Homo sapiens: one gene and its partners. The protein of the gene in region 3 interacts with the protein of the main gene of each other region in a pairwise test. Each region holds a gene or a part of one and is shown on either strand. Other genes may lie near its edges. The genes, in order: FASTKD3, NOTO, FAM9B, STK3, RAB17, DAPK2 and SYT17.

The links.
Region 1: the proteins of FAM9B (region 3) and FASTKD3 interact in binary tests that used the Homo sapiens proteins (3 or more experiments, as listed by UniProt).
Region 2: the proteins of FAM9B (region 3) and NOTO interact in binary tests that used the Homo sapiens proteins (3 or more experiments, as listed by UniProt).
Region 4: the proteins of FAM9B (region 3) and STK3 interact in binary tests that used the Homo sapiens proteins (3 or more experiments, as listed by UniProt).
Region 5: the proteins of FAM9B (region 3) and RAB17 interact in binary tests that used the Homo sapiens proteins (3 or more experiments, as listed by UniProt).
Region 6: the proteins of FAM9B (region 3) and DAPK2 interact in binary tests that used the Homo sapiens proteins (3 or more experiments, as listed by UniProt).
Region 7: the proteins of FAM9B (region 3) and SYT17 interact in binary tests that used the Homo sapiens proteins (3 or more experiments, as listed by UniProt).

What each region holds. Positions count from the first base shown.
Region 1 is NC_000005.10:7,859,032-7,862,531, forward strand, and holds the end of FASTKD3 (FAST kinase domain-containing protein 3, mitochondrial), read right to left. Parts: intron 3,027-3,500; exon of another isoform or gene 2,920-3,026; intron 2,773-2,919; exon of another isoform or gene 2,743-2,772; coding exon of another isoform or gene 2,622-2,742; coding exon 2,552-2,621; exon of another isoform or gene 2,454-2,551; intron 2,233-2,453; coding exon 2,118-2,232; intron 509-2,117; coding exon 404-508; 3' UTR 128-403; downstream 1-127. UniProt on the Homo sapiens protein: Required for normal mitochondrial respiration. Increases steady-state levels and half-lives of a subset of mature mitochondrial mRNAs MT-ND2, MT-ND3, MT-CYTB, MT-CO2, and MT-ATP8/6.
Region 2 is NC_000002.12:73,205,574-73,209,073, reverse strand, and holds part of NOTO (homeobox protein notochord), read right to left. Parts: intron 675-3,500; coding exon 460-674; intron 1-459. UniProt on the Homo sapiens protein: Transcription regulator acting downstream of both FOXA2 and Brachyury (T) during notochord development. Required for node morphogenesis.
Region 3 is NC_000023.11:9,031,328-9,035,323, forward strand, and holds the start of FAM9B (protein FAM9B), read right to left. Parts: upstream 2,801-3,996; 5' UTR 2,525-2,800; intron 1,957-2,524; exon of another isoform or gene 1,795-1,956; coding exon of another isoform or gene 1,660-1,794; coding exon 1,632-1,659; intron 1,135-1,631; coding exon 1,014-1,134; intron 835-1,013; coding exon 803-834; intron 1-802. UniProt on the Homo sapiens protein: May play a role in meiosis.
Region 4 is NC_000008.11:98,542,689-98,546,188, forward strand, and holds part of STK3 (serine/threonine-protein kinase 3), read right to left. Parts: intron 1-3,500. UniProt on the Homo sapiens protein: Stress-activated, pro-apoptotic kinase which, following caspase-cleavage, enters the nucleus and induces chromatin condensation followed by internucleosomal DNA fragmentation.
Region 5 is NC_000002.12:237,584,235-237,587,734, forward strand, and holds part of RAB17 (ras-related protein Rab-17), read right to left. Parts: intron 1,924-3,500; 5' UTR 1,921-1,923; coding exon 1,764-1,920; intron 1-1,763. UniProt on the Homo sapiens protein: The small GTPases Rab are key regulators of intracellular membrane trafficking, from the formation of transport vesicles to their fusion with membranes.
Region 6 is NC_000015.10:64,043,686-64,047,843, forward strand, and holds the start of DAPK2 (death-associated protein kinase 2), read right to left. Parts: upstream 2,801-4,158; 5' UTR 2,613-2,800; intron 1-2,612. UniProt on the Homo sapiens protein: Calcium/calmodulin-dependent serine/threonine kinase involved in multiple cellular signaling pathways that trigger cell survival, apoptosis, and autophagy.
Region 7 is NC_000016.10:19,171,240-19,174,739, reverse strand, and holds part of SYT17 (synaptotagmin-17), read right to left. Parts: intron 2,406-3,500; exon of another isoform or gene 2,157-2,405; coding exon of another isoform or gene 2,126-2,156; intron 2,112-2,125; exon of another isoform or gene 1,986-2,111; coding exon of another isoform or gene 1,981-1,985; coding exon 1,963-1,980; intron 1,311-1,962; coding exon 1,162-1,310; intron 1-1,161. UniProt on the Homo sapiens protein: Plays a role in dendrite formation by melanocytes.

The DNA of each region.
Region 1 (3,500 bases), on a different chromosome or scaffold from region 3:
CTTTTCCTTACGGTAAATCTCACTTCCACTCACAGCACACAAAGAGAAAAAATTTCCTCCATCTGTTAGAAAACAAAAGGTCTCTAAAGAGCAAAATATTTTCATTTAGCAGATAACTATGACAAAATACTTAAAAATAACATTTATTCATTGAATTCCTTTACAGCACATGATCAATTGTTTGATGTACAAAAAGTATCTATGACACTAGTATTAAATTAAAATTAATTTTAAATTTTACCACAATAAATGTATACATAGTATAAGGAAAACTACAGATGCTTTCAGATCACCAGTCTAGAACATATTCTGCAAAGTGGCTAATTCACATTATATTTTTCTTTTAATACTGAGTTCCATAAAAATGCAAGTTCTTCCATTGTTTGAGTTCTGAAGTCAGTATTCATTCTTGCAACCAATGAACAGTGTTTTGAGAAAACAGTTTTCTTTGTAAATATTCCACCAATTCACGTCTTGATTTTAGCATCCCAATCTCATGATAGGGGATCTGTAAAGGTAGAAAAGTAAAACTGGTCAAGATCCTTCAAAATCTGAGGTTCCTCTGGCTATTGGTTACTTTGTTTGTTTCTTACACGCTTCCCCACAGCGGAATGTAAGCTCCTGGAAGGCAAATATCCCAACCAGCTTCTTCATCCTGTATCCCCAATGTCTAGAACAGTGCCTGGCACTGAGAAGGGGCTTGGTAAATATTTGATGAATTAATATGTAGAATATGCAAATAAGAATTAAACATGATCTCTTGTTCTCCAGGAGTTCACAACTTGGGTGGCAAGTTAAATTACACAATAAATATAAAAAACAAGCTGTAGGTTGGTGATCTAGTGCTAAGAGGGAGTGAGCATTTCATTAGATGAGGGTGGGGATGCCGACAAACTGCTGGAAGGTAGGTATTCAGAGAGCTGGAGGACGCAGCAGGGACAAAGAGGGAATGAAGAGGGAGAGAGCAGGAGGCGCAGCAAAGGAGAGAGTCTGCTCAGCTGGGAGCAGAGGGGCCAGGTAGTAATCATGTGCCTGCAGCCTGGCTGCAGGCCAACCATTGGAGGGTCTTGAATGTTAAGATGTAGAGAAGTTTTTACTTTATTCTGTAAGCAGTAAAGAAACATTGAAGCTTCTGAGTAGACACTGGCATGATTAGTTTTAGGAATATTCAGCTGGGGATGTGCAAGATGGAGAAAAAAGTCAGCAGATATGAAACCACAGTGCTGCCTAGTACTGACAGCTTAGAGAATTAGGGCAGCGCTCATTCTCACGCACTGCTGAGCCCTCACATAAGACCTTCTTACATTATCTACAGTGAAATATTTAAAAGGTCTTAAATATTAAGTGTTGGTGAAGCTCCTTATTTTAATGGATTATCTTGTTCATTTTTATTTATTAAATCAAGGAGAAATTAAAACAGAACATATATTCCAACAATTGAGTAATTCTAAAAGCAGGGTTAAGCATAGCTTATAATGAATATAGGTAGGCCCCACTTTTGAAAAATCAAAGCTCTGAAAATTCTGTATTTCAAAATATAAGTCAAGAGATTTAAGCCGAATTAACAACGTTGGGATTTAAACTAGACGTAAGATCGGTGGTCCACTGGGCTGGCAAACCAGTTAGTACTGTAAAAGCAAATTAAAATGGAGCCTGTGCCTGAAAAATCCCTGAGCAGACCAAGCCAGTTGGGCCTTGAAAATAACCTTAACTTTGCTTAAAGTGCAAATGTTAAGCAAAATTTAACTTGGGCTATTTCTTGTAGAAGCTTCTACTACAGAAAAACAGAACTTAAGCTCAACCAATCAGAAGCATCTCACAAACTAATAATTATATAACTAGGAACTTTCCACAGAATAGTTCAAACAAGGCAGCAAGAATATGTAACTGTAACCAGTCAAGTAGATTCTTTGTGTACTTGTGTTCTTCCTATAAAAGCCTCCCTCTTGGGTTCCCAAGCCATTTCGAGTTTTGTGCTGTCCAGTTCAATAATTGCTGCCTGATCAAATTCTTTAAAATTTTACTGTGCCTCAGATTACTTTTTAAAAGTAACCTGGAAAAATAATTTTGAAATAGGATTTGCTTTTGGGAAACAAAAAAAATAGGTGAAACCGTACCTGAACAACTTGATAACCGAGTAACTGTAGGTGTCTTTGTTTAATAGCTTCTTTCCCCAGTAAGTGTTTGCTATTGGAGCAAAACCTTTTTGGACCATCAATACACAGTGCTATCCTGAAAAATAAAAAAGGAGAAAAATACTTAATTTTTTAAATAATCCAAAATATTTATTATATATTTTAGTTGCCAAAGTTTATTTGGGATTTGGCTATTACTATGTGCCAATATTATTTTCAAATGAATCATGAATTTGATCTTATTAATATTAATGTTTATAAAATATTACAAGGAATTTCCCAACATGGTATTCTGAAATGTAGTATTTTAATTTCCAGAATCATATCTATTTTTTTCACCTTCTTGAGAAAAAGATACCGCTGCTTATTAGCCTCAACGAGTCTTGTAATGTGAAAAACACAACATTTTCCTGTACCTTTTATGGATATCTTCATTAGCTGTGGATGGCAATACAAATCCTTCTTCATCTAATTTAATTTCAACATCTGGTGAGAGAAGAAAGGAAAAATTCCTCGTGTGATACCCTCACAAACACTATCTTCCTGTATTCATTCCTTTGCTTTGCTTTGATTCCTTCCACCTTGCATTGATCAATTGGACTGAAGGCTGCAAAGTAATGACCACAACCAAACAATGGTGAGAATTTTAATTCAATTGGCTTTATGATCAATCAAGTCAGCCTTAAATTAAGAAAGCTCAATAACGCTAAACCACAGAATGGGTTCTGAAGTTATCTGGGGTATGACAAGAACCATGCATGCTTTCTCTTTCCCCTTATGATAGGTGGCAGAGATCCTTCAATCCAGACTGTGAAGAAAACCCTTGAGTTAAGACATTAGACATCTGTGCAACTCATAACTTCCATCATTCCAACTTGCAGTGCCTCCATGGTAAGTAAAGAAAGCATGCCACACCCAGACACCTGGTCTGCGAGCACGGAAGGCTTCCGAACTGTCCTTCCCCTCTGGTAAACTGCAGTTCCCTTCGTAAAGAGAAGAGAAGTGACCATCTGAAGCCTATGAACTGCTGTCCTTTACGAGAAGGCTTTCTTCTGCTCATCAAGTTAGAAGAACTGTAAGGACGGAGGACTTGGAGTCTCTTGTCAGTGCTGTCCAGGAGAAATTTCTGTGATGTGGAAATCTTTATAATGGTGCTGTCCAATTTGGCAGCCATGAGCCACATGTGGCTACTGAGCACTTACAATGTGACTGAGGAATTGAATTTTCTTAAACTTTTAATAATTTAAATTTAAATAGCCACATGGTCTAGTGGCTACTATATTTGGACAGTACAAGCCTAGGTTATAGTAGTAGCTAACAATTAGTGAGCATTTCCTACGTTCCAGGTACTATTTTATTTAGACC
Region 2 (3,500 bases), on a different chromosome or scaffold from region 3:
CCTCCTAAGTAGCTGGGATTATAGGCACCCAGCTGATTTTTTTGTATTTTTAGTAGAGACAGGGTTTCACTATGTTGGCTGGGCTGGTCTTGAACTCCTGACCTTGTGATCTGCCCACCTCAGCCTCCCAAAGTGCTGGGATTAGAGGCGTGAGCCACCGCACCTGGCCACATCTACTTAATTTTACTGGCAGGTCCTTATTTAGCATGGAAATCCTTTATTATCAATTTTTAGACTAATAATCTAAGTTAACATTCCAAGTTGTTCACATTATGTGACTTCAAATGGGACTTTTTTTTTTCATTATATAGAGTGTGCAAAAAGTCAGGGCCTGTCCCCTCAACAGCCTGGCACAGGGAAGAGGGCCCATATCTTCCTCCCACCCTCCTTTTAGGGCCTTGCTGAGGTAGTGTTTGTCCCCAGGTGCAGCCCAGGCCCAATAGGAGTCCCTACTCCCACCTGGTTCTCTGTAAGTTTGAGCCGAGCTGCCAGCTGGGCTCTCTTCTTCCCCACCAGATTGTGCTGTTTTGCAAACACTTTCTCCAACTCTTCCAGCTGCTCCAAGTTAAACATAGTTCGGACTCTCTTTTGCTGTCTCTCAGTGTCCTGTAGGTCCTCCGTTGGGGCCCAGTCTGGGAAGGCCCAGAGTCCTGAGCAGTGAGCCAGCTCCAACCCTAAAGAGCAACCAGCAGCAGGGGAGGTTATCCAGCAGCAGGGGAGGTTAGCCAGAAGCCCCCTGCACTCCCATCTGGGCAAAATGAGAAGGCACACACAGCTCTGCTACCTTGCCTTCCCCTTGGCCAGGTAACAGTGCAAGAAGACAGTGGAAAGAGACTGTGCAGAAATAACAGGAAACAAACAAATGGGAAAGAAGGGACAATGCAATGAGACTGTCTGCCACCACTACTCTCTAGCCAAGTGGCTTCACTTCTGGCCCCTAAGAGGAGTTGCCAAACCTCCCTTCTCTTTGCCTTCCTTTCCTCTCCTTGACTGCTTCTGGCAACGCCATGGAATGGGCAGAGAAGAGACCCCCAGGGGTTCACCCTTTTAATTCACTGAACAAATATTATACTTTTTGAATGTCTACTGTGTGTCATGCATGGTTTCAGGACAAAACAGAAAATCTCTGTCGTTATGGAGCTTACATCTTAGAAATGAGGTCAGAAGAGATAGAAGTCAGAAGAGAGGGTTGAGCTGAGGATACAAATTTGGGAGTCATCACTGAGCACGTTGGCTCATGCCTGTAATTCCAGCACTTTGGGAGGCTGAAGGGGGCGGATCGCTTGAGATCAGGAGTTCAAGACCAGCCTGGCCAACATGGTGAAACCCCGTCTCTACTAAAAATACAAAAATTAGCCAGGCATGGTGGCACATGCCTGTAATCCCAGCTACTCAGGAGGCTGAGGCAGGAGAACTGCTTGAGTCCGGGAAGCAGAGGTTGCAGTGAGCCAAGATAGAGCCCACTCTACTCCATCCTGGGTGACAGTGCAAGACTCTGTCTCAATTAAAAAAAAAATTGGGAGTCATCAGCTTATATAGATGGTATTTTAAGCCACGGGAATAAATGAGACCAAGCTGTGGGCCAGTGGAGATGCATCAACCAAGAGCAGTTCCTAAGTCAAATCTTGATGGGGATGAGGGAGTGAGCCATTGGGCTATCTGGGGGTATAGTATTCTAGGCAGAAGAATGGCAAGCATAATGCTAAGGCCACTCAGCCCCCACTAGCCTTGGGGAGTCCTCAGGGCTGGCAGACAGACTGCCCCAACAAAGGGAGTGTATCTGGGGTCCCGGCTGCTTAGGACTCCAACCACTGGGCCCACTAGGCTTACACTGTGCCTGCCAAGGTAGACCAAAAGATCAGGAAAAGCCCATCAGACATACAGCCTGGTGTATCTAGTCAGCCTTGTTTCAGAATCAGAAATTGACCTTTGGAGAAGAAAGTAGGCTGTACTGTGTGTTCCTTAAGAGCTCTAGTTGAGGCCGGGCATGGTGGCTTATACCTGTAATCCCAGCACTTTGGGAGGCTGAGGCAGGCGGATAGCCTGAAGTCAGGAGTTCAAGACCAGCCTGGCCAACTTGGCGAAACCCCGTCTCTACTAAAAATACAAAAATTAGCCAGATGTGGTGGTGGGCACCTGTAATCCCAGCTACTCAGGAGGCTGAGGCAGGAGAATCGCTTGAACCTGGAAGGCGGAAGTTGCAGTGAGCCAAGGTTGTGCCACTGTATTCCAGCCTGGGTGATAGAGTGAGACTCTGTCTTAAAAAAAAAAAAAAAAAAAAAAAAAGCTCTAGTTGGAATCCTAGCTCTGCCACCAATTACCAGCCAGAGGACCTTGGGCAAGACAATGTACTTCTGTGAGCCTTGATTTCCTCACATGTAAAATGGTGATAATAATCCCTACTTCCAGAGATGTCAGGATTTTAACATGGTGCTGTCTAGGCACAGTGGCTCATGCCTATAATCCCAGCACTTTGAGAGACTGAGATGGGCCCATCGCTTGAGCCCAGGAGTTTGAGACCACCCTGGGCAACATGGTAAAACCCTATCTCTACAAAAAATACAAAAATTAGTCAGGTGTGGTGGTGCACAACTGTAGACCCCGCTGCTTGGGAGACTGAAGCAGGAGGATCACTTGAGCTCGGGAGGCAGAGGTTGTAGTGAGCCAAGCCGAGATCACTCCTTGCCAATAGAGTAAGACCCCGTCTCAACAACAACAACTACCACAACAACAAAAACAAAAGCATATGATGCTTACAGGGTGCTTAGCACTGTGCCAGGCACAGAGCAAGAAGAAAGTCAATGGTTATTATAAAAATTAAAACAGAAGTGATAATCCAATGGGGAAGAGGGATTATTTCCAGATCTGGGAAAAATTAAGCTGGATCCATACCCAATACCTTGCACTAAAAAAAATCTAAATGGAGGAAATATTTAAATGTAAAAAGGTAAACCCACAAAAATTTAGAAAAAAATGGGGAAGTTATTTTATGACTTCACAGTGAGGAAGTTCTTTCCAAGTATCATATAAGATGTGGGGCCAGGCACAGTGGCTCATGCCTGTAATCCCAGCAGTTTGGGAGGCTGAGGCAGGAGGATCACTTGAGCCCAGGAGTTCAAGATCAGCCTGGGTAACATTGTGAGATTCCATCTCTACAAAATAAATGTTTTAAATTAGTCGAGTATGGTAGCGCATGCCTGTGGTCCCTGCTACTCGGGAGGCTGAGACAGGCATTGTGAGATTCCATCTCTACAAAAAAAAATGTTTTAAATTAGTTGAGTATGGTAGCGCATGCCTGTGGTCCCTGCTACTCAGGAAGCTAAGGAGGAGTGCTTAAGCCTGGAACATTGAGGCTGCAGTGAGCCGTGATCGCACCACTGCACTCCAGCATGAGTGACAGAGAACCTGTCTCAAAAAAGAAAAAAAAAAGGATTTGTAAAAACACATCAAACATAAAAATTAAAATTTTTTCTATGTAACAAAAGAATACCGCCATAATC
Region 3 (3,996 bases):
GAGTGTAACTAATATTTCACACAGCAATATAAAGTTTATGAGTTTTTGGAGCCAATTACATGTTTCTCACTAGGTAGAAAAGTTGTCCTTACTTTTCTACTACACAGTTTATTACTGGAATAATAATAGAAAATGATTTTAGAAAATTCAATTTTCTCTTGTACTTTAAAGAAAACAAAATCAGAAAGCTGTGACAATAGAACAGCTAAATTAGGAACATGAAAAACTCATATTAAAAACTCTGAGTACAGACGGACAGGAAGAGAGGAACAACAGACAACTGGGCCTACTTGAGGGTGGAGGGTAGGAGGAGGGTGAGGATCAAAGACCACCCATCAGGTACTATGCTTATAAACTGGGTGACAAAATAATCTGTATACCAAAACCCTGTGACATGCAATTTATCTACATAACAAACCTCCACATGTACCCCCAAACTTAAAGTAAAAGCTAAAAAAAACCATTGATATATGACTTAATCTGTGTATACTAAAAGGAACGAATAGAGCTGTTTCTCCTCCACTGTCCTCTAATATCCTCCAAACAATTAAATTTCCACATGTATGAAAGAAAAGCCATCCATCTCGCTTCACCATTATTAGAAGCATTCTCACATTCCACATCAACAATCAAAAAGGTAAGAAAAATTTATCAAATAGATTACATTAAATACGTACGTTAAATGCTACATATGAGAAGCCATTTAAGACAGTCTTGTCGTCCACTAATTCATATAACCTACTGCAACAGTTGTATGACTGAAAACAATTTTCATAAACTACAGATAACTCCTAAAACATACCTGCAGTATCTTCTGGCTTCTTGGTATTAGCCCTGTAAAAAAAGTTACATCAAAATTTTAACAAAATACTACACAAAATGCCATGTTTGTTGGGAAAAGAAATGTCTTATGTGAAATGTTCTGCATAGAATAGAACAGTGATGACATGGTCCAAAGCTGACTTTTCCTAAAAGACCCTATCCGACAGGCAAAAGTGACTTAAACACTTTACCCCGTGTGTTCATCTGTTTCAGCAAAAGGTTCTCTTTCCCCATGCTCATCAGTTACATCTTCCTCCCTTGTTTCTGTAAAACGGTTTCTTTCCTCACATTCATCACGGACTGGATCCTTTCCTGCATTAAAATGTAAAAGACAAACCTTTTTTAGAGGAAGATGCTGCTGTGGACATTTTTTGTGGAGAAATGTACTAGTTGTAGACTTTTTTGGGGGGGGGGGGCTCTCTGCCAATTAAAGCTTTAAAGCAGAGCTATACATGGAATCACCGGTTCCTGACCATTTTATCGAGGGACTTTTGGAAGCCCTTCGGGTTCAGGTTCCAGTAAACAACGTACTACAGTTCAGACCCCTTGGATGTCAGGACTGCACCCATGGAGAAGAGCTGCTCTGAGAGCATCTGTAACCCTGCTATGAGGGGGAGCCTTCCACGGGGAAGCCTAAGGCCCTTGAGCCTGCTTTGAAAACCTGGCGCATCTTAGCACGTGCACAATGGACTCCAGAGCCACGAAGGGGCCTGGGGCCTCGGGCTGCCCCTGTGCCCCCAGCGCAGAAAGCAGACAGACCGTCCTCTTGGGCGTGCACCTTCTTCTGGGTCCCCTTGGGCTGTATTTACCTGCATGCTTCTTCCCCCAGGCCGCCATAAATTGAGCCTCCAACTGGGCCTTGGCAGCCCTCCTGCCCACAGGATCCGTGGCTGGTTGTCCTGGGAAGCTAGAGGCGATCCCCGAACCTGGTGAGCGCAAAGACACACTAAGGAAGCTAAGGAAACCTGGCATCGGAAAGGAAAGCCATTGGGATCACAGGTTCAAGAAGGGTGGGGCTGGCCCGCCCTGGGTCTCATGTGGGAGCAGGAAGGGACGGAAAAGATGCCAGTGTCCCCTCCTGTCCTGGCCCGTCCAGCCCGTCCCCGGGGCTGGCTGCAAAGCTCACAGCTGCCCCTCACACCTGAACTCCACGGCCTCTGCGGGATCCTCGCCGCCCTTTTGGGACAGAACTCAGCCCTACCTCTGAGTCACCTAGCGACCCCATGTGGCTGGGAGGGCCGCTGGGTGACACAGGATCTCCCCAGCCACCTCTAGGGGAATGTCAGGGGCTGCACTGCCACTCGCCCCCCTGGACGCACAGGGGACCCCCGGTGACCCCCGGTGACCCCAAGTGTCCTGTCCTGTCGGGCGGCCAGGCAGGAGGGCCCCACTCAGACTGTCCCCCACAACACCCCCGCCTCACTCCCACTTCTCCCCCCCTCGGCCCCTCCCCCCAACACATGCACAAGCCCCCAGGACCCTCCCGGGCCCTAGGGATCACCCAGGCAGCTCCAGCTCCCTCCCTGCCCTGGCCCACCCCAGCCCACCCTAGCCCACCCTCAGGGCCTCGCCCTGACCCAGGCCCCAGGCGACGACGCTGGGGCCATTTCCTCACAGGTCGGCGGGCTGCCCAGCGCTTCACACCCTGGTTCCCAGAGGGCCTCGTGCCTGCGTTCCCGCCTCCCCACCACGAGTGCTTCACCTGAGGGACCCCTGATGTGGCGCCCTCAAAGAACCTGCAGGCAGCGGCACCACTAGGACCTCTTAGAAAACGGGTCCTCTCAGGAAGCTGAGGCAGGAGAATTGCTTGAACCCAGGAGGCGGAGGTTGCAGTGAGCCCAGATCACACCACTGCACTGCAGCCTAGGCAGCAAGAGCCAGACTCCGTCCCAAAAAAAACAAAACAAAAAAACAAAAAAAAAGAAAAGTAAAGAAAACGGGTCCTCAGTTCTCGTGAGAGCTGCAGGCAGGACTTCCTGCGCTCCTCGCTGATTGGTCGGCTCAGTGCACATGCGTGTGACGGGCTGTGTGGGGCCAGGCCCCCTGCTGGCACGCCCTCACCCTTCCCCTAAGTGACAGCCCGTGGTTGCTGTGGACTGGGGTGGGGGTGGCCCTTTGGGGCCTCTGTCCCCACAATCTTTCAGCTTCTCCTCCTGGGGAGAGACACAAGGACTTGGGATGGAGGCCAAGTGGACAGGGCCTAGAACCTCGCCCTGGGGCTTGTTCCAGCCACCCCTGCCCCTTTGGCTAGAATGGCCATCACCCTGTGGGTGGAGCCCAGGCTCCCTCCCATGCCCTGTGTGCTTCCAACATGCCCAGCTGCGTCCTTTTTAATCAATGGATTGTGCTTTTATCGTTTGTGTTTGTTGGTTTTTGAGACTGAGTCTCACTCTATTGCCCAGGCTGGAGTGCAGTGGCAAGATCTCAGCTCACTGCAATCTCCCCTTCCCAGGTTCCAGCGATTCTCCTGCCTCAGCCTCCCGAGGAGCTGGGATTACAGGAGCCCAACACCACGCCCTGTTGTTGTTGTTGTTGTTGTTGTTGTTGTTGTTGTTGTTGTTATTATTATTATTGCATATTCGGTAGAGACAGGGTTTCACCATGTTGTCCAGGCTGGTCTCGAACTCCTGACCTCAGTTGATCCGCATGCCTTGGCCTCCCAAAGTGCTGGGATTACAGGCGTGAGCCACCGTGCCCAGCCCATAACCTTTTTTGTTTCCTCACTACTTTTCTTTCTCATCCTCATGCCCCAGACTTGCCCACAAACCTTCATACTCCAGACTTATCCAGACATATGCCACAACCTTCACCCACAAATTAATGCCTTAATACTTATCGTTAACTCAGCTTTTTCCCACCTCCGATCCCCTGTAATAGGGAGAGAGTTGTTTCGGAGTTGGGAGTGAATAAATATTGCCTAAAGTTTGTAAATCAAGATACAGAGTTTCATTATACTATTGAAATTATAAAGGCAGTCATCAGGAAAACTAATCCACAGCCTTAAATGCCTATATAACCAAAAAGAGCACACACAAAGCATACAAATCCTGTAGTAAAAGTTGGAAAATAAAGAAAATACTACAGAGACCATAACATAACATAAAAGAACAGAATTAAGGCCAAGTGAATCTGTTGAGCAAGAAATATGAATGAGATAAACTCGCATTCTAAAGG
Region 4 (3,500 bases), on a different chromosome or scaffold from region 3:
TTGTTGGAAGGATAAATTAATAGGGTGGACAGATGAATATTATCCTTTATTGATTATCAACTATATTTAAAACACTGCTAGGCATGTTTTGAATTTACCTAATACACACACCTGCACATATACACACAACAGAGAGACAAATATTTATCACTGAAACTCAGACAGAATTAAGCAACACAATTACTAAATGATTTGGCTTCACATCCCATGCTCTTCACTATACCACATCATTTGTTCAGAAAACATTTCATGAACTCTTACCAAGTGCTAGGTATTGTATTAGGTATCAAAAATACAGTGGGAAATAAACAAAAGCACACGCTCACAATAAAGCATGACAGTGCTGTAAGAGTGAAAGCTTGGGGTGAGATGGGAGCCTATTAGAGGGGCACTTATTCCTAACCTGGGGTTGATAGAGGAAGCAACCTCTTAACTGAGCCTGAGTGAATGAATATGATTTAGCAAAAGAAGCATAAATCCCACAGGAGGATTTAGGCATTGCAAGTGGCCAAAGGTAAAAAAGCTCTGTAAGAGCTGAGAAGCTGGAAGAAGGATGAAGAGGGAATAGAAAGGTAAGTAGGAACCAGAGCATATACTGCTTCTTAACTGGTGTTGAGCTTTAGCCTATAAGCAATTGGTAGTCACTGGGAGGGCATAAGCAGAAGAGAAATGTGCTGAAATCTGTATGGTGGGGAGGGAATGAAGATTGGAGGCAGAGGATCAGTTTAGAAGCCTCACAAGTGAGAAACTATGAGGACTTGCACTAAAGAAATGCAAGCAGAGATCATGAGAAGAGAATAGGGATATTTAGGGGGCAGAACTGATGAGATGTTACTTCCATGAAGGGTGAAGGAAGAAACGGAAATTAAGAATGACTCAATTTTTCAACCTTATTCCAAAGACCACATTTAAAACACCTATACAGCTTCTCTAGGTACTTGCATGATAACATTTCACTTTTTTTCTGTAAAGTAGGGAGCAACGTCATCTACTGAAACTGAGATGGGAGGCAGGAAGAAGAGATCTAGTGAAGATCTAAACTAGCCACTCTGTAGAATGAGGAATTGCTGAACAGAGAAACACAGGCCTCCAGGAAAGTTGAGGGCCCAAATGGGGGAGAAGGTCTTGATCTGGCAGCCCTCATCTGTGCAGATGGAAGATTATCTCCAGCAGCACTCAATAGCCAGGGTAAAGATGCAGAGAAGATGAACACTGAGACTGGACCATATCAAAGTTTTCCAGGAGAGGCAGAAAAGACAAGACATTAGGGCAGTGGAGTTTAGAATATAAGAGAGTGGCAGAAGCAATGAAATATAGCCTCTAAGAGGAGTTTAGAACATAAGAGAGTGGCAGAAGCAATGAAATAATGAAATATAGCCTCTAAGAGGAGTTTAGAACATACGAGAGTGGCAGAAGCAACGAAATAATGAAATATAGCCTCTAAGCTGGATATAGAAGTGAAGGGAGGGTGTGCTAATAAAAAGAAAGCAGACTAGGAACTAGGGTCAGGGAACTAGAGGGCTCTCATGATAGCATTTCCCAAAATGTGTTTCTCAGATGCTTATTACACAGGATGTTAATCACTGATACGTTCCTCATTAAAAGCTTTTCATGGTCAAATAAGTGAAGGAAAGTTTGGGTAATGTAATTTTTAAACTGTTTCCTTCCTGTACTATTTGTATTTAATAAGTTAATAATATATACTGTAGTTCTCTAATAATTTATCTCTAGGATAAATATGCATTTCCCAAATAATTCTGATTACTGTATATTATTTATCTATATTTATCAGAGAATTTCACTGAATGGGTATCTTAAGGAACACATTTTCAGAGGGTCTGCTCTGTGAAATGAGAAGCAGGGATGGTAGAACACTTGAAAAGAAAGTATCTTACCAAGGCAGGAGGTTTACCTGAAAGTTCTCTTAGCTTCCAGAGCTATGTATCTTTAATTCTACTATAACACACACACACACACACACACACACACACACACACACACACACACAGCTTGACTCTGACTCTACTGTAATTAGTATTCATTCATGAAACCAATATTCCAAGAGCATGTACTATTATGTGGCAGAGGAGATTTATACAGCATTCTTACCAGGACAAACTTCGTGACTTATCTGGAGAAACAACAGATACACACATGAAAAATAAAAACCTGGCTGGAAAATATGGCTCTTCCTCAGATACCCATAAGACATAGTTTCCCTCCAGGGCAACTAGTGCTACCAATCTAGCCACAGCTCTGTAAGATCAGAAAGTTCCTCCATAAAAACAGAGCTAACTGAGTAGATCTGAGCTGAACAAACTAAAAAGCCCCAGTCTTTCTTTGCTGAAGCTACTACTCTCCCAGAGTCACCCATGATGAAATAATCTCTCCTACCCCATCAGTTTGATGACATAGATTCTTGACCTGGTCCTAATCTACTCCAGGATAATAAATCCTAAATTGATTTTCTTGAATGACAACCAACCTGCTTTTACCCAGTGTCAAGCATTCAGAATTCCAACTGGCACAGACTAGTATGGATAAAACATAATCCATAAGGAAGAAGTAGAGATCCACATGTAAATAATGGCTAGTGCCAGACTGTGAAGGATCTTGGTGACACAGCTGAAGCCTGGACATTCCATGGGGAATGAGGAGGCCTTAGGGATATCTGAATAGGAAGACTGGGAGCGGGAGGGTAAAAGTAATGCCATCATTGCTAAAAACAGGTTTAGAAAGTTATTCTTGGGACATGCCCATAGGGTCCACGTCCATTTTTTAAAAGGCAGATCAAATTTTAAAATACTTTTTGTCATTTTTCTCCACTTCCCTTCAAAGGGTCTGTGGGTAATTTTCCTTTCTAGAGGTAAGGAAAATAGGCCCATAATTTCTAGCTTCATGGTTAAAGGTATAAAAGAGTAAGTGTAAACATAATTTAAACTGACAAGGATGTTAAATCAGGCAACTCACTTGAAACTCCAATGGAAAAAGAGATGAAATTCTAAATCTTCAGTACACATTGTAGAGATTTTAGAAAACCAAAAATAATATACTGCTATCATCTTATTAGGGAACAAAAATGCTAAAGACACATTAGCAAATGTGGCTTTGACTGATGTGACATAAGCTGAGACCTCATACCAACTAATTTAAGAAGTTTTAAAGATTTAGATCACGAGAAAAACAAAACTACAATAATTATATGGTTTCAGAAAAAGTAAGTCTTCCCTCAATAACTTCTTCACATACTTTACTACTGCTATACTACAATATGACAATCCCTAGGGGTTATACTAACATCACTTGATTAGAATTTTGGAAACACTGAAGTCTCACATTACAGAATGATGTCTAACTTGTAAAAACAAAAAACACAGAAAGTTGGCTCATGGGATTTAAAATTTGCTGAGGTCCATAAAACAACTGCAGCTATAAAAACCACTTATCTGTTCAACTTCAAAATTGGTTTTCACTAAAATCTCTGTGACAAAAAGTCATAC
Region 5 (3,500 bases), on a different chromosome or scaffold from region 3:
TGTGGGCTGAGCACGTCCAAGCACGTCTCAATGAATCCAAAGCACCCTCCTACGCTCCAACCGGGCATCTCGGAATCTCTCAGCCCTGCTTGCGCTCACCTAGTGAGTGCCTTTGGGCGCTGGCTCCTGCAGGCTCTGCTAGGGTGGCGTCATGGAGTCCTTCTGTAAAAGGCCCTGTAGCAGATACTTTAGGTTTTACTGGCCATGGGGTCACTGCTGCAACCACTCAACCCTGCTGCCATTTTAGAGTGAATAGAGGAGGAGGAACAGCAAGAATATCATTTACAGAGGGTAAGTACCTGAAGAGGTAGAGTTGTGTCTCCACAGAACCTTACTCACAAAACAACAAGAACAGCCAGAGAGCCACAGTGTGCAGACCTCCGTGTCAGAGTGAGATCCATCCCCAGTCCAGCTCACCTGGCCTGACACCTGCTGCCTCTCTCTGCATCTTGAATACCAGCCACCCAGGTACAAAGCTCTCAACATCCAGGCCTGGTGAGGCCCCCATCTGTGTGCTCTATTCTCAACTGAGGCCACCCTCAGGCCAGCCTTGGCATTTTGATGTATTTTTAAAGGAAGCCAAGTCCAATATCAGGACTTGGGGGGTGAGGGGTACAGATCTCCTTGCTAATGGAGAAGAGGATTGTACTGCACACCACAGGGTAACCTTGACTCTCTCCCCAGGGTCCCCCTCTGCAGACAGCCTCTCACCATCACCCTGGCCCTTCTCACCACTAGCTCTGGGAGTCGGGCCAGGCAGACCCCTGCCAATTCCCCTGTATCCCCTGGGGATCCTTCAGGAACCACCCCCCTGAGAAAATGGAAGGGCTCCCTAAATAGCTAACGTCATGTGCCACATCTTGCAATTGTGTTTCTGTGTTTGGTGCATCTGTTTAGCTGGTTATAGAATCCATCCCACCTAACGCAGGCCTGCAAAAGGGTTCATGCTCAACAGATGCCTGTTAGATGAGTAAATGAATGAGTGAATTTGGAGATGTGCAGCTTATCCATGTCAGAGTCCGAATTTGAAACCGAGGCTCTGATTCTGCATGTGTTCCCCCAGGGGGAATGGGCATAAAGAACACGCTGGCTTTCCCCATTTCAGGTGAAAACTGGGTTTCACTGCCTAGGCAGACTGTGCCCACAGCAGGATGGGAAGGAGGCCAGCAGCCTGCAGATGCCCCATACAGTTACTCCTGAGCTTCATGACAGGTTAGCCTTTTTAAGAAACACAGAGAGAAGGTCTCCCTCCCCGCCCACCCCCAAAATGATCTTCCCACCCCCAATCCAGGCCAAGCTGGTAAACCAAGTCCAGGCAGGAAGGAAGATGCTGTTGGGGTAAATAAAGCAAGGGAGCAGTGTTAGCAGGAGGGCGGCCTGGGTGGTGGGAGAGGACAGCTGGTTTAGGCCGCTGAGTGGCCAGGGCCCAGGAGGCTTCTTCCGGGCTGTCCCTTCCACCAGCATAATCCCTCGCACCCAGCCCGACCCTTTGGGGCCAGAGGTCCTACCCCAGAATCTCCACCCCCTGCAGACTCCAGCTGAGCTGAAACCTGACCCAGAGCCAAGGGCATTTCCTGTCTTTGTAGATTCTGTGGCTGCCCTCTTGGACCTCACCCCCTCCCCTCACGCACTGGACACAGGCAGCTCAAGGTCCCAGCATGGGGATTCCTAGGTGGGCCTCGTCCCCATCTGCCCCAGGTGTGGGTCAGCAGCCCAGACTTCTGCACTGAAGACCAACAAAGGGGTGCTCTGCCCTCACTTACAGCCCACCGTAGGCAGGATACTCTTGAAGTCGTTCTTCACGTACCGAAGAGCCAAGCTGGACTTACCCACGGAGCCACTTCCCAGGAGAACCAGCTTGAACACACGGGGCTGGCTGGGGGCAGCCCTGGGCTGGGGGGTCCTGTGTGCCTGTGCCATGCCCTGCAAAGAATCACAACCGTCTGAAGCAAGTGGAACATCGGAGCCACATCATCTCAGCAAGCTCAACCCCGGGGCTGCTTCTCGGTCAGGAGCAGATGGCCCAATACAGAGCTCCCAACTCAGAGGCCACCTAGGTCCACACTCCTGCTTCCCTCTGCACCCCATGCCCCATCTCCCCATCTGCAATTTTTAGGTCCATTTTTAGGTCTGTGGTAAGGAACAAAAGGAGCTTTGCTTGGAAAGCTCCGGGCACGGGTCATTGCAGACCCTGAAAAGCAATGATTACATGTGACGGTCTCAGGGCTTGTTGTCCTCCTTCCATTACTTTCAGTTTTTACAAATCTATTACTTGTCCCCAAAGTATCTAATGCAAGGAGAGGTAAAAAGCATCTGAGCATTTCTTGGGTGGTTGTTCATGGATTAAAGTTGGTGTTTCAGAAAAAATCTACCTAAAAAAAGGTTGGTGTCTCAATGATCTCAAAACATCGTAGACACATTCCCATTGTGTCTAAAGCCTCAGAACCCACAGTAATATGCCCCAGAGAAAACCAACTTCGTGATCAAAATAAACGTGGGCGACCCCTGCGTATTTTTCATCATAGAAACTTTCATGTACACACCACAATAGAGAGAACGGTCCGATGGGCCCATAGACCCACCTCCCGCTTCCCCAGTAATCAGCTCAGCCATTTGTATCACTCACACTCCCAAACCTCCCCCTGCAGGGTACTGTGTAAAGCAGATCCCAGGCATTCTATCATCTGCAAATCTCAGTAGAGATACAGGTATTTTTTTTTCTTTGCAGTTCATGTGTTGAAGAAATCAGGTTGTCCTGTAGATTTCCAGTACGGATGTTGCTGATTACACCCCTGTGTTATTGAATAGAGTCCTATGAACTCTGTATTTTTGATACCGCGGTGGTTCAGGACATAAACCTGATTAGATACAGGCTATTTTTTGGCAAGATTGCCATGAGAGTGTGCGTGCACTTCCCACAGAAGGCAAATAATGTCCAGTTGTCTTTCTGTGATGTTGGCAGTCACTGAAGACTATTACTTCGACCCACTATTTTACTAAGGGGTTGCAAAATGGTGACATTCTAATAATGTTCTAATGTTATCACTTTGTGTTTATTATCTAGGAAGAGAAGCTCCCCACAAAAAATATGAAACCCATCAGGGGCAGCTGGTCCTGGGAACAGAGTCTCTTCTCCCTTCCTCACCACAGTGGGCAAGAGGGAGGCTCCCTAAAGGGGGAAGGGGAGGAATTTTGAAAAGGAAAGAAGAAAAGCAGGAGTGGTTGGAAGCAGCCCACATGCCCTCACTGCCGCCAGTAAGGAGCCATGGCCACAGACTGGTCTGGTCTGCCCTGCAGGGATAAGAGGGGAGGGAATCAAGTTTGGAATCAATCTCAAAACAAATAGGACTGAGTCCTAGATACCAAGAAGATCGTTCTAGAGAGAAAGTGACTGAGAGTCATGGAGTCCAGAACAGGAGGGTTTAGGGCTCTCTACCCATCAGAGAAGAAGGGTTCCACATAGTAGACTCGGGTGGTTATCCCAAACATGCCTGGAACCC
Region 6 (4,158 bases), on a different chromosome or scaffold from region 3:
TTTTGTATGTGATCAAAATTTTACATAATTTTTTAAAATGAGACTAATGTGAGACAAATGAGATAACCCATGTGTAATGTTTTAAACGGTCCATGGATAACGTGAATTCCTTCCCTCCTCTTTGTGACTTGGAGCCCCATAAGGGCAAGAATTGTGACATTCCTACCTCTGTCCCCTTGTCGTAGGCTAGTACACAGTAGGCACTATATAAGTGTTGGCTGATTTTAACTTAGTTCCCCAGCCTCCTTTCTCAAGGCCGCTACTCAGATGCTCATCAGGTAAAACAACTGATAGCCACTTCAAGCACTTTCCTAACACCTCTCCTAAGGCGAATTTGCATTTTACCAGTTTAGAAACAAACTAAAGGGGTGAAACTGAAGTGGAATTATAGTCACCAGCTAGGACCCAGATAAGGAGCCAGAGGCACAAGGACCTTTCCAGCCTCGAAAAGCTGAAATCACATGGCAGAGGGAAGGGACACAGTTACAACTTTTGGCCAGAAGCACAGGCCATCAGCTCCAGATGCTCCCAGGATGATACCCACCTTAATGCCCATGTTTCTCCTGATGGAGTCCTTGGAATTCAAATTCCTGCCTACAACTCTAATACCAGGCAACACTTCAGGGGGCTACCACAGATTTCCTAGAACCCCATAGATCATCTATTTAGGGATTTTTAGAACTGCTTCAGGATCACCAGGGTGAGAAGGGGAAGCCAGAGCAGTTCCACGTTATCCATACTATATGTTGGCGTTCTGGGTAAGAATTCACTGTGAAACAGAAGTTTGAAAACCACTGCTGTCTGGTCTAACCCACTTGTTTTTACAAGAGGAAGCTGAGATCCAGAAAGGGGAAGGGACTCACTGAGCATCATACAGGTGACCCATCCCGCTCCTCTTCCCAGGGCTTCTTCTGTTGATAGCCACCCCAACTCCTCCAAGATGTCACCAGGGTTGGCAAAGTCAGTGGCCTCCTGAGGGACAAGCTAGGAGGAGGTGTCTAGGGCTGGAAGATCACCTCATAGGAAACTCTCAACACTCAAGAAGCCCTCTCCACCACTGGCCCAGCTCACTCTGCAAAGTGAACTCTCTCAGTTCCTCATCCCACCTCACCAAGTGCAAGTGAGTGAAACGGGACCACAGCAAGAGGGCAGGCAATGGTTGGGCAAAACACACACGACCGTCTCATTACACACACCCCCATTAGGAATCATCACACTCAGGCTCTGGAGAGGCTGCCAACAGAAGGGATGGGGCTCCGGCATTACAGAGCTCCTCTCTACATTCCAGGCTTTGACCCATCACAGTCTCCAATGAGGAAGCTGGGGCCCACAGAAGGTCAGCCACCTGCCTGAGTTGACACAAGAAAAACTTGGTCTCTCTGGCAAAGATCCAGCTCCCTTGGGAAGCCTGCTTGTTCACCCCACAGCTAACAAATCGGGAGGCCTCAAGGAGGTGGGCAGGGTCAGTGCGGGTCTCATTCCTGCCAGCCAGGAACTTACCCCAGAGGAGCAGACCTCCAGCCACATCCACACACCCCTGACCCCTCTGCCCAAGTCTCCTCTGAAGGTGCTGAATCATCAGTGGTGCCACTTGAGGGTGCTCAAAAAACATCTTGGGAGATGAGCGGTTTGGGGAAGGACAGGGCTGTGAAGTTAGCTGTGAAGAGGCCAAGGCACCACGGCCTCTTAGGTCAACAGGACTCTCCCAGGAATATCTTCCACAGAGGCAGTTGGGAGTCGCAGTGTCAGAAACCAGAGTGGCTGCCCTCCACAGGATTCCAGGATACAAGATGTCAGGCGCTGTCCCTGCACCTGCCCGCTTGCCCCCGAGGCAGCCAGCTATGGTGCCCTCTCCTCCAGTGTGCACCACTGCCTTACCATTACCTGCACGGCCTCAACGAGGCTCACCTCTCTGGACCTTGTTTTCTCTTTTGTAAAGTAAGAATACCAATTTCCACCGTGCAGAGTTACGGTGAGGGTTAGCCAGACCTATGCAAGCCTTGGGACCTCCAAAATGCCTAGCCCAGAGTCCTAGTCAACTGTTGGCAACGCCCTTCCAAGCCGTTCCACCCCAACCTGCAGCACACCTGCTGGCCGCCCCCACGCCCATCCTAGCTCTACCCCAGGCCGGGGCGCCTGACGGCGGGGACCCCAGCTTCATTCAGCCCCAGAGGAAGCTCAGACATCTGAGCACCCTCCTCGCATCACATCCTTGTGCCAGGCGGGAGCAAGAGGTGAGAGAGTCAGCCCAAGCTGAGAAGACTTGGCCGGGAGCCGGGCGTGCTCTGCCCGTTCCAGGGGGCCTAACTCGATGGACGTCTGTCTCCCATCTCCCTGCTGGGTGCTTGGCTCTGCCCGCCGCCTCTACCCTGTCTCCCAGGTCAAAGTGCCAGGCTCCGGAGGGCGCCCCAGGGCAGCGGCGGGCAGCTCCCGCGCTCGGGTGCCGGCCACAATGCCCCGGGCCACGGCGTCAGGCATTGGGGCGGCGGGCCCGGGATCTGCGAGCGAGTGCCCCGGATCTCTTCGCCCCGCCAGCCCCAGACCCGGGCGCTGCTGCCGTCAGGCCGCGCGCCCCGTCCCGCCCATCGAGCCCGCAGACGGGTGCTACTCACGGCGGGAGGCTGAGCTGCCGCGGTCGCGGCCGCGGCAGGCGCGGCGGGAGCGGCGGGCGCGGCGGGCGCGGCGGGCGCGGCGGGCGCGGCGGGAACGGGGGACGCGGCGGGGTGCGCTGGGCTCGGCCCTGCAGTCCTCTCCTCCCAGAGCGCCCGGCACCCGCCCGCCGAGCAGCCTAGGAGCCGAGGGGGCGGAGCGGCCAGCCCCGTCCCAGGCGCCGGCTGGAGGCGCGCCCGGCTGCCCGGGACGGGGCTCGGGGCGCCCCCTGCTGGAGCCCCCTCCGGACAGTCCCGGGGCGAGAGCCCAGCTTCCCGGCCGGGTAGGGGACACCTCAGGGCTCCCAGACTCCCGGGAGAGCGGGGAGAGTCGGTAGCAAGACCCTCTGCGCGTCCCTACCGGCTCTACCGCGCACATGCTGCGTGGCCTTGGGCAAGTCGGCTACCCTCCCCCGGCCTTATCTGGAAATCGATTTGAATGAGCTTATACGTATGACATGGTCTGGCACAATCCTCAGAAAATGGTACTTGTGTGCTCCTCTCCCCACCATACACACCGTGAGCGAGGAAGCCCCACTGAGGAATAGGCCGTCTCCTCCCTCCCAGCCAGAGCGCTCCCTACACCGCAGACTCTCCTGGAAACCTCAAGCCCACAGCGTACAGCAAGGTGGGGGCTGCGATGAGAAGGGCCGCTCTGCTCCTCACTGCCCCCGACCCAGCCTGAGAGCGGCCTGCCCTCGTTTGCCCTTTGTCCTGGCACGGTTGCTGAGTGAAGCCCCCCTCTCACCATCACGCCTTCTCTAATAGAGGACTTGGGAATGGGTTCCTCTCTCTGCCCTCTGCCAAAAAATCCCTGAGGAAAAAAGGAATGAGAGTGAGGGGGTGAAGGGAGGAAGGAAGGGAAAACAGAACTTAAGCCAAGTTCATTTGTCTTATTTCAAAACAAGAGGCTGTTTAGAGGAAGCAAATGAGGACCCCTCCAACCCCTGGAATTTCCATCCCTAAGTCACCCATGGGGCTCCTCAAAAGGGCCTTAGATTCAGAGTCCTACCACCAGGTTCAAAGCCCTGCCCTGCCACTCCGCATGTGTGTTCTTGGGCATGGCTCTTTCTTCATCAGTAAAGTGGGAGAAACGCACCTTCCGGTAGCTCCTAATGAAGCTATGGTGGGGCTGAGATGAGATGGAGTGTGTAAGATGCACCTAGAGGACCTCTACCAGTGTGAGCACACACACACCCTTCAGCCTTTTGGACATTGGGACAAATACAGATGGACCCCACCCCCCAGCTGAGCAGTGCCTCCGGGTCCAGGACATCCTCGGCAAAGAGTTCCTTGTTTATAAACTTCACAATAATTCAGAACAGTGCAGCCAGCGAGCCTCCTCTCCTAAGAGCAGCATGATATATAGAGTAATATCCAAGACTAGAGGTGGTTTCTGATGTCAACGGACCTAAGGGAATGACACCCACTGGTGAAGTTTCACCAACATGAGAAGTCCCCCACCAAACTATCCCTAAACACCTCTTCCTCCATTTCCATTTACCTATCA
Region 7 (3,500 bases), on a different chromosome or scaffold from region 3:
GAGAAATACTATTCTTTTTATCATCCCATTTCACAGATGGGAAATCAAGGCACACAGAGATCAAACCACTTGCCCAAGGTCACAGAACTCGAAATAGTAGTTGAGACCACAGAGCCTGGATACAGAACCATTTTGCTATGGAAATATTTGATACTTGCTTCTAAGAAGAGAAAATGAGAGGCCTGAGGCATGAGCCCCCAGCTTGGAGGGAAAGATGGGACACCAGAGACTTTTGGAATCTCAGGCCAAGGACTGAGCTGAAACAGCGCTGCCTCCTTCCACTCTGCCAGGCTCCAGCTGTGGGTCCTGGCCGCTGTCTGTCTCCCTCTCTGGGCCTGCCCCTCCGAAGCATGACAAGCTCACTTGATGACTTCTTGATCCTTCCCAGCCCCGACCTTCTTGACTGTACCCAGGCTCTCTGACCACGTCCCTCTCTCAGTCACGGAGAGGTGGACCAGGCACGTGGCTGAGAAGCTTCAAAACTGCGTTCCCAAAATATCTGAGCGACTGGCAGATGGAGATGTTGTATGCAGGCGCGGGAGGAGAGCAAATTAGAAATAAAACGAAAGATGCCAGAGAGAACATAAACAGCGTTGGAGGACAGGATGGAGCCTGGAGGTGCTTTTCTGCTTCCCTGTTTCTGAAGTTCTTGTTCGGAGCAGCAAAAAGGCACTTGTTTGTTCATTCCGTCTACCCATCCATGCAATGGATATTTATCGAGCTTTTACTATGTGCAGGCCCTGGGCTAAGTGCTAGGGAATCTTGTCACGCTGACTTGGATGGAAACCCTCAGAATGCGGTCAGCCCCTGAAGAATATAGAGGCTCGGCTCACAGATCTCCTTTTCTGCTCGGAACCACGCTCCACGTGACTAAAAACGCCCACACGCTTAGCATTACACGGTTCGTATCTCAGAAGGCCCGATGTGCCACTAGGTGAACTAAAACCACACCACCAGCTGGTCTCGCCAGCTTGCCGAACAAAATGAGGGGTACAGAACATATCCCCAGTCTGCAGCAAAGTTGTCCCTGGAAACTCAGCCTGCTTCTCTTTCATGCCCCCAAATCCTCCCTCCCGTGGCCCAGACCCCCAACCCGCCTTCTCATTAAAAAGGAAAAGTCTTGAAATTGATTTCAGAGAAGTTCAGAGCAGTTTTACTTACAGCCAGGGAGGGGTCTGAGCAGGGAAAGGTCCCAGAATTTCAACTTCATCCTCACTTGACTGGCAACAGCTGGACTCGTAGCACTTCTGACAGCAGTGCCGGCAGGTCCATCTGCACAGCAGCAGACCAGAGATTCTAGAAAGAAAACCCTGAGGCCATTGGGGGAGGTGGGCGGGGGGATGGGGGAGAGGGGAGGTGGGCAGGGTGGGGAAGAGGAAGAGGAGAAACAACACCCAAAATTACAAGCAGCCGATCTCGGATGAGAAATAGACATTCAGGAGTTCTGGCTCTGCTGCTCAGCACTTAGAACAAAATGTTTTCCATTTCTATTTACCAACTGCAGGCACAAAGATAGCAAACATCAACTCGCTGGAGCCGTTAGTAGCAAGCAAAACATTTGCAGGTATTTTCTTTTGTAGTTTATGTGAACGTCTTTCTTGACATGTGGGTGGTTTATACAACATCATAAGGGCTATACGATATGTTCGAAACACAATGAATATTACTGTGTCTTCTTGAAAGCAGGGGAAAAAATATTTTTAAAAAATCTCGGTGACATGAAACAGACAGAGATAATCAAACGGAATAAGTAGGGGTGGAGAGGGAAACTTGTCTTGTCAACTGGTGTCTTTTCAAAACCGGGATCTCCTTTCGGTAGAAAGGAATGGAAACTGTGCCGTTATTAACACCAGGTTATTGTTGAATATTCAATATCCCCACAGCCCCACATAAGACTCCAAAATGAAAGTCAGGCATTTCTTGATTAGAAACCAGACCAAACAAATCATCAAATGAACCCACCTCGTTTAATGGTTCCAACTGCCCTTTTAAGATCCACGATGAAGCCAAGGGCGTAAGGGAACGAAGGGGTTAAAGAAAGAGAGACAAGACCAGTTTAGCAATATTCCAGCAACTCAAAAAAATTTTACAAAAAAAAAAAAAAGCCCTGCATATTTCCACTTACCATCCTGGGAAGGGAGCTGACTTCCTAACATCCTAACAAGGTGTTGCTATTTTCAGGGCTGCTGGTAGCCTCCTGGTTAACCAACACCAAATAAATGGGAAACTTTAGCATTTCGATTTGATTTGCACCGTATGCTGTTATGAATCAGAGCGGGCGGATAGATAGTCATGCTATCCAATGCAGCCACACTTCAGGAGAAGAGCAAACCTTCCTATACAGAAATAGCCATGTAGCCAACCCAAAAGGACATGATTAGCTAACATGCAGGCAGGCACACAGTGGATGTTACTTGGCTCCCCCGCCCTCCCGGAGGCCCTACCTTCCAATTCTGCTCCAATGGTGATGGTGGGGTGTTTCCTATCACCACCCACAAATAGAGGGAACTAAAAAGGAAGCCCTAATCTGGTCCTCTTGAGGAAGGAGGTCCTCCCTTCCTGTTGTGGCCCCACCCCGCCTCCCCATCTTCGTCTCCTGGGTTCTCAAGGCACAGACTCCCTCCTTCTCTTTAAGGTGGTTTTCCAAATGGGCCAAGTAGGCTAGATAGGTTAGAAGTACTGCATCCCAACCTCGGGCATGTCCCAGAGGTGAACTGAGGTGGGACTCAAACTCAGAACTTTGAATCAAGAGGGAGAAAGTTATTATCTTTTTTCCGATTCTCCTTTAAGGAGGAGAAAGTCTCAATTTGGTACCACTACATGTTAACATCTTTTACCACTTACCAATTTCCACCCTCCCCCATCCCCTTTCTTTTAAACAAAGAAAGTAGATCTTGTCCAGAGGCTTGGAGACAGCCACGTCCACCTAGAATTCAGTAATGTGGCATTATTCCCATTGGGTTTATTCTTCTAGTTGCCTTCTGCGATGTCACATGATCTTGGTTTCCTATGATATTAGTGACATAATGTTTCCTTTTCATATGATTTTTTTAAAGTAAAAATAAAAATGAGCCCATTTATAGAAAAAAAATTAAGTTAATAATAGCATAGGTAGGGCTGGGCGTGGTGGCTGATGCCTATAATCACAGTACTTTGGGAGGCCAAGGCGGGTGGATCACCTGAGGTCAGGAGTTTGAGACCAGCCTGGCCAACATGGTGAAACCCCCTCTTTTCTAAAAATACAAAAAATTAGCCAGGCGTGGTGGCAGGCGCCTGTAATCCCAGCTGCTGGGGAGGCTGAGGCAGGAGAATCACTTGAACCTGGGAAGCAGAGGTTGCAGTGAGCCGAGATCGCACCACTGCACTCCAGCCTGGGCGACAGAGTGAGACCCTGTCTAAAATAATAATCATAATCATCATCATCATCATCATCATCATCATCATCATCATAGTATAGGTGGTACGTGGCTTGTGAAAAAATTGAAATCCTCGAAGTGGTA